Linked DNA regions of Homo sapiens. The protein of the gene in region 2 purifies or fractionates together with the protein of the main gene of each other region. This does not show direct contact. Each region holds a gene or a part of one and is shown on either strand. Other genes may lie near its edges.

Region 1 (3,500 bases), about 13 Mb from region 2:
TAGAAGGTGGTGGCCTTTGGGAAGTGATTAAGTCATGAGGACAGAGACTTCACAAATGGGATTAGTGCCCTTTATAAGGAAGAAGCCCCAGAAAGCTCCTTGGCCCCTTCCACCATGTCAGGACTCAGCAAAAAGACCATCTACAACCAGGAAGCAGGCAGGCCCTCATCAGACATGGAATCTGCCAGCATCCTGATCCTGGACTTCCCAGACTCTCTGTGACAAGGAAGTTTCTTTTCTTCAGTTTTGTTTTGTTTTGTTTGAGATGGAGTCTTGCTCTGTCATCCAGGCTGGAGTGCAGTGGCGCAATCTTGGCTCACCGCAAGCTCCGCCTCCCGGGTTCATGCCATTCTCCTGCGCCAGCCTCCCAAGTAGCTGGGACTACAGGCGCCCGCCACCACGGCCGGCTAATTTTTTGCATTTTTAGTAAAGATGGGGTTTCACCGTGTTAGCCAGGATGCTGTCGATCTCCTGACCTCGTGATCCGCCTGCCTTGGCCTCCAAAGCGTTACGATTACAGGCGTGAGCCACTGCGCCCGGCAGTTTCTGTTTTTTATAAGTTACCCAGCTTAGGGTATTTTCTTATAGTAGCCTAAACGGACTAAAACAGGCAGTGATGCATGCTATCATTTTTCTCTTTGGAGTGGCAAATTCAGATTTAAAGATTTTCCAGTGGGTTCTGGGTAGAAGGGTCATTTATACAATTAATCAGATAAGGCTTAAGGTTTACTTGGCCATTCCTGTCCTATTTTTTTAATGTGAGGACTCTGGGAGATGGAGGCACTAGAGAAAGCAGGGCCAAAGGAAGGGAGTGTTCAGGGGGTCGGCATGCACGATTAGAAAGAAATGGTTGTATGTGGTAGATGGCATCCACCCTCCCTAGGACTGGGCTACCCTAGGCTTCGTGTTCCATGGCCTACAAAGCCATAGACAAACTGGGACTATGCTTTGGGGTGACCTCAGAAACTTGCAGCTAGGCCAGGCACAGTGACTCACACCTGTAATCCCAGCACTTTGGGAGGCCGAGGCTGATGGATTACTTGAGGTGAGGTGTTCAAGACCTGCCTGGCCAACATGGTGAAACCCCGTCCCTACTAAAAATACAAAAATTAGCCAGACGTGGTGGCACGCGCCTATAATCCTAGCTACTCGGAAGGCTGAGGCAGGAGAATCAGTTGAACCCAGGAGATGGAGGTTACAGCAAGCCAAGATCACACCACTGCACTCCAGCCTGGGCGACAGAGCAAGACTCTGTTTCAAAAAAAATAAAGGACATGATCAATGAAAACTTCTGAGTATTACTCACTACAGGTTGACAATTTTTCACACAGACTTTTTTTTTTTTTTAAGAAACAAGGCTGGGCACAGTGGCTCATGCCTGTAATCTCAGCACTTTGGGAGGCCAAATGGCAGGATGGCTTGAGCCCAGGAGATCGAGAACAGCACGGGCAACATAGCGAGACTCCCTGGGCATGGTGGCTCACACCATGTAATCTCAGCACTTTGGAAAGCTGAGGCAGGAGGATGGCTTGAGCCCAGGAGTTCAGGACCAGCCTGGGCAATATAGTGAGACTCCATCTCTATAAAAATGAAAGCAGAAAATTATCTGGGCATGGCAGCATGAGTCTACTCCACAGGCTGAAGCAGGAAGACCACCTGAGCCCCAGACTGCAATGTTGCCGTGAGCCAGGATCGAGATACTGTCCTCCAGGCTGGACAACAGAGCAAGACCCTGTCTCAAAAACATATTTTAAAAAATTTAAAAGGACAGAATCTCATTCTGCTGCTCAGGATGGAGTGCAGTGATCATAGCTCACTACAGCCTTGACCTCCTGCCTCAGCCTTCTAAGTATGGAGCCACCATGCCCAGCTTTAGACGTCCTTTAAATGTTACAACCCCGTGAATCAGGTTATTGTTCACATCTTATAAATGAGGAAACTCAGAACCAAGGAGATTAACTATCCCAAGAGCTACTAAGGGGTGAGGAATGGACTTGAACTTCACTGTACCTGGTTCAAGCATCAATTAAATAAGCATGGGTCAAGAGTAAACAGCAGAGCTGGAAGAGTTAAGAAAAAAACTTCTAAAAAATAAAAAACACCAGGAGCAGTAGCTCATGCCTGTAATCCCAACACTTTGGGAGGCCAAGGCGGGCAGATCGCTTGAGCCCAGGTGTTCGAAACCAGCCTGGGCAACATGGCAAAACCCTGTCTCTACAAAAGATACAAAAAAAATTCCCTCCCCCTCCCCCTCTCCCCAGTTTCCCTCTGATGCCGAGCCGAGGCTGGACTGTACTGCCGCCATCTCGGCTCACTGCAGCCTCCCTGCCTGATTCTCCTGCCTCAGCCTGCCGAGTGCCTGGGATTGCAGGCGCGCACCGCCATGCCTGACTGGTTTTTGTATTTTTTGGTGGAGACGGGGTTTCGCTGTGTTGGCCGGGCTGGTCTCCAGCTCCCGACCGCAAGTGATCTGCCTGCCTCGGCCTCCCGAGGTGCCGGGATTGCAGACGGAGTCTCGCTCAATCAGTGCTCGTTGCCCAGGCTGGAATGCAGTGGAGTGATCTCGGCTCGCTACAACCTCCACCTCCCAGCCGCCTGCCTTGGCCTCCCAAAGTGCCGAGATTGCAGCCTCTGCCCGGCTGCCACCCCGTCTGGGAAGTGAGGAGCGTCTCTGCCTGGCCGCCCATCGTCTGGGATGTGAGGAGCCCCTCTGCCCGGCCGTCCAGTCTGGGAAGTGAGGAGCGCCTCTTCCCGGCCGCCATCCCATCTAGGAAGTGAGGAGCGTCTCGGCCCGGCCGTCCATCGTCTGAGATGTGGGGAGAGCCTCTGCCCCGCTGCCCCGTCTGGGATGTGAGGAGCGCCTCTGCCCGGCCGCGACCCCATCTGGGAACTGAGGAGTGTCTCTGCCCGACCGCCACCCCGTCTGGGAGGTGAGGAGCTTCTCTGCCCGGCCACCCCGTCTGGGAAGTGAGGAGCCCCTCCGCCCAGCAGCCGCCCCGTCTGGGAAGTGAGGAGCGTCTCCGCCCGGCAGCCGCCCCGTCTGGGAGGGAGGTGGGGGGCAGCCCCCGCACAGCCAGCCGCCCTGTTCGGGAGGTGGGGGGCGCCTCCACCCAGCCACCACCCCGTCTGGGAAGTGAGGAGCCCCTCTGCCCGGCCGCCACCCCGTCTGGGAGGTGTACCCAACAGCTCATTGAGAACGGGCCATGAAGACGATGGCGGTTTTGTCGAATAGAAAAGGGGGAAATGTGGGGAAAAGAGAGATCAGATTGTTACTGTGTCTGTGTAGAAAGAAGTAGACGTGGGAGACTTCATTTTGTTCTGTACTAAGAAAAATTCTTCTGCCTTGGGATGCTGTTAATCTATAACCTTACCCCCCCCCCCAAAAAAAAATTAGCTGCAAGTGATGATGCACATCTGTAGTCCCAGCTACTCAGAAGGCCAAGGCAGGAGGATCAACTAAGCCCAGGAGGTCCAGGCTGCAGTGAGCCAAGATCACACCA
Region 2 (4,200 bases):
GGCTTGGCTGTTTCCCCCTGCATATTGGGGTTGAAAACTTAAATGTGTAGTTCCAGTCCTTCTATGCAGAGTCTCTCCTGCCCTCCCTCCTTCCTGCAGGCAAATATACAAGCTAGACCCTGTTCCCTCACCCTGTATCCTGTCTCCCCTAATTGACATTCTATCAGCCCAACCCTCATTCTGCAGGGCCACCTGGTGTGTGGAGGTGGCGGGAGGGGTCAGTGACTCTGGGGGTCTCCTCAGTGACCCCCATACCTCATCATGAACCCTTGGGTAGCTTGATTCTGCCTACCATCCAGGAAAACTTGTGCTGGAATTGCTGATGGAAACAATTAAATATTTACTATAAATCAGTGTCTTTTCTTCATCTGCAAGGAACTTTAGCAGGTGCCTGAGGCAGGGCACAGTAGAGCTGGTGGGCTTAGTCCCACATGGCAGATCTACCCTCCTGGAGGGTACTGTGTTCTTGAGCTATTCTCAACAGTCAGTACTGGTTGGGTGCAGTGGCTCACGCCTGTAATCCCAGCATTTTGGAAGTCCGAGGTGGGCAGATCACTTGAGTGAGGTCAGGAGTTCAAGACCAGCCTGGGCAACATGGTGAAACCCTGTCTCTACTAAAAATACAAAAATTAGCTGGGCATGGTGGTGCATGCCTGTAATCCCAGCTACTTAGGAGGCTGAGGCAGGAGAATCCTTTAAACCCTGGAGTCGGAGTTTGCAGTGAGCGGGGATTGCGCCACTGCACTTCAGCCTGGGTGAGAGAGCAAAACTCTGTCTCAAATAAAAATAAAAATAAAAAAGAGCCAGTATTTTCCTCCTTGCTCCTGGGAAGGAGAAGGAACTGGCCCCGTACAACCAGGGATTCAGGACACGTGTTACTAGCTCCAGATGAGGATTTACACGAAAAAATCCTGGGCCTTGTTTGTACAGTTCATGCCAGGGGTAGGAAATACCTGAAGCTTTCAAATACTGCGTTAGAGTTGTGACTCTGTCCTGGGCAAGTCAGGCCTAAAATGGAGAAACTGGTGATGCACTCCTCAAAAAGCCAAGTGTAAAATGAGGTTAATGCCCTCCCTGACTTGTTGCCTTCACTGGCGTGGCATATTATGGTAAAAATAATAATTAAGAAGTAAGGTTATGCAGGCAAATCCTCTAGCGCCGAAATCTTCCCCGCCGCGCTACCAGGTTCTTTCGTGTTATCTTGGACATAACACAACATTAATTCAACTACTCGGTGGAGCGCCCACTAGCTGCTGGACACTCTCTTAGGCCCTGGGCACAGTGAACGAGAAGCATGTGTCTTTGTTTTTACAGTCTCACCACGCCACCACCTCCCTCGGGGGCCTCCGCGCTGAGCTTCCGGCCTCTACGCCTCGCTTCCGGTCGGCCGCCCCTTCCTTACTTCCGGTTCTCTATGGTGCGCGGGCAAGCTTTGCTCCGCCTCCGGCAGTGGCTTACTCCCGGTGCCAGGTTCTTGGAGCTGTGAGGTGAGGAGGGGACAAGGGCAGTGGGGCTGGGAGATGGGGCGGGGCTGGGCGCTCCGGGACTGAGGTGCTGATCGCCCAAAGGGCGCCCCTGGGCTGGGGTCTGACCCGGCTTCTCCTCCCTCACTACCCGCGGTCCCCGGCCTCTCGGCGCTGCGCTGTTACCTCATCCGAAAAGTGTTCGCTGCAGCATCCTCAGGCTTCACGTTGGAGCCTCTTGATTGTGGTAATGTAGCCTGATGGGGGTGGGGGTGGTGGTGATGGTAACAGCTCACATATATCGTGCTCTTCGGTGTGCCAGGCACTCTACTGTGTTGCCAAAGTCAGGATTTCCCACACTTAAGCCTTTCAGGTCCGGTCTTTGTAGGCTTTGCCAGATCAACTTACCACCTCTACTACCGTTTATTAAAAATTTGTTTGTTTGTTTGTTTTAGTATTTATTGATAATTCTTGGGTGTTTCTCGCAGAGGGGATTTGGCAGGGTCATAGGACAATAGTGGAGGGAAGGTCAGCAGATAAACAAGTGAACAAAGGTCTCTGGTTTTCCTAGGCAGAGGACCCTGCAGCCTTCCGCAGTGTTTGTGTCCCTGGGTACTTGAGATTAGGGAGTGGTGATGACTCTTAAGGAGCATGCTGCCTTCAAGCTTCTGTTTAACAAAGCACATCTTGCCCCGCCCTTAATCCATTTAACCCTGAGTGGACACAGCACATGTTTCAGAGAGCACGGGGTTGGGGGTAAGGCTATAGACCAACAGCATCCCAAGGCAGAAGAATTTCTCTCAGTACAGAACAAAATGGAGTCTCCCTTGTCCACCTCTCTCCACACAGACACAGCAACAATCCGATTTCTCTATCTTTTCCCCACATTTCCCCCCTCTCTACTAGACAAAACCGCCATCGTCATCATGGCCCGTTCTCAATGAGCTGTTGGGTACACCTCCCAGACGGGGTGGCGGCCAGGCAGAGGGGCTCCTCACCTCCCAGAAGGGGCGGCCGGGCAGAGGCGCCCCCCACCTCCCGGACGGGGTGGCGGCCAGGCGGAGGCGCCCCCCTACCCCCGACCCGACGGGGCGGCTGGCCGGGCTGGGGCTGGCCCCCACCTCCCCCCCGGACGGGGCGGCTGGCCGGGCGGGGGCTGCCCCCCACCTCCCGGACGGGGCGGCTGCTGGGTGGAGGGGCTCCTCACCTCTCAGACGGGGCAGCCGGGCAGAGACGCTCCTCACCTCCCAGACGGGGTCGCAGCCGGGCAGAGGTGCTCCTCACATCCCAGACGGGGCGGCGGGGCAGAGGTGCTCCCCACATCTGAGATGATGGGCGGCCGGGCAGAGACACTCCTCACTTCCTAGACGGGATGGGGTCCGGGAAGAGGTGCTCCTCACTTCCCAGACTGGGCAGCCGGGCAGAGGGGCTCCTCACATCCCAGATGATGGGCAGCCGGGCAGAGACGCTCCTCACTTCCCAGACGGGGTGGCGGCCGGGCAGAGGCTGCAATCTTGGCACTTTGGGAGGCCAAGGCAGGCGGCTGGGAGGTGGAGGTTGTAGCGAGCCGAGATCACGCCACTGCACTCCAGCCTGGGCACCATTGAGCACTGAGTGAACGAGACTCCGTCTGCAATCCTGGCACCTCGGGAGGCCGAGGCTGGCCGATCACTCGCGGTCAGGAGCTGGAGACCAGCCTGGCCAACACAGCGAAACCCCGTCTCCACCAAAAAATACGAAAACCAGTCAGGCGTGGCGGCGCGCGCCTGCAATTGCAGGCACTCGGCAGGCTGAGGCAGGAGAATCAGGCAGAGAGGTTCCAGTGAGCCGAGATGGCCGCAGTACAGTCCAGCTTCGGCTCGGCATCAGAGGGAGACCGTGGAGAGAGGGGGAGGGGGGAGGGGGAGGGGTTTACTAAAAATTTTTAATCCAGTCCAAATTTTTTTTTTGCAACGGGATCTCTGTTGTCAAGACTGAGTGCAGTGGCGCGATCATAGCTCACTGCAGCCTGGAACTTCTGGGCTCAAGCCATCCTCCCACCCTAGCCTCCAGAGTAGCTTGGGACCACAGGTGTGCACCGCCATACTAGGCTAATTTTAAAATGTTTTCTAAAGATGGGGTCTCGCTCTGTTGCCCACTCTGGTCTTGAACGCCTGGGCTCAAGCGATTCTCTCACCTCTGCTTGCCTTGGTTTCCCAAAGTGTTGGGATTACAGGTGTGAGCCATGGTGTTGGGCCCAGTCACTTTTTTTGTTGTTGTTGAGACTGAATCTCGCTCTGTTGCCCAGGCTGGAGTGAAGTGGCTGCGATCTCGGCTCATTGCAACCTCTGCTCCCTGGGTTCAAGTGATTCTCCTACCTCAGCCTCCTGAGTAGCTGAGATTACAGGCGCCCGCCTCCACTCCCGGCTAATTTTTGTATTTGTGGTACTGACGGGGTTTCACCATGTTGGCCAGGCTGGTCTCAAACTCCTGACCTCAGGTGATCCACCCGCCTCAGCCTCCCAAAGTGCTGGGATTACAGGCCTGAGCCACTGCGCCCAGCCAAGTCACTTTTTAAACTCAAATTTACTTTGAGAGAAAACTTGAAATCTCTCCACCAGAAATGGAAAGCTGCTTTCACTTGTTTTATGTAGAAGGTAAAAATTAATATAGTTAATATAATGCAACTAGATCATTGTTAACAAACTCTGGCTAGATTTTGTTGTTTAAGGCTGTGGGATAGAGTTCTTTTGTTACA

Evidence for each region. Proteins that work in one complex are often made in the same cells at the same time.
Region 1: the proteins of THOC5 (region 2) and POLDIP3 purify together in Homo sapiens (affinity purification with mass spectrometry; one large-scale study listed by BioGRID and IntAct). This does not show direct contact.

The regions. Positions count from the first base shown.
Region 1 is NC_000022.11:42,604,884-42,608,383, forward strand, and holds part of POLDIP3 (polymerase delta-interacting protein 3), read right to left. Parts: intron 1-3,500. UniProt on the Homo sapiens protein: Is involved in regulation of translation. Is preferentially associated with CBC-bound spliced mRNA-protein complexes during the pioneer round of mRNA translation. Contributes to enhanced translational efficiency of spliced over nonspliced mRNAs.
Region 2 is NC_000022.11:29,550,958-29,555,157, reverse strand, and holds the start of THOC5 (THO complex subunit 5), read left to right. Parts: upstream 1-1,400; 5' UTR 1,401-1,487; intron 1,488-1,502; exon of another isoform or gene 1,503-1,710; intron 1,711-4,200. UniProt on the Homo sapiens protein: Component of the THO subcomplex of the TREX complex which is thought to couple mRNA transcription, processing and nuclear export, and which specifically associates with spliced mRNA and not with unspliced pre-mRNA.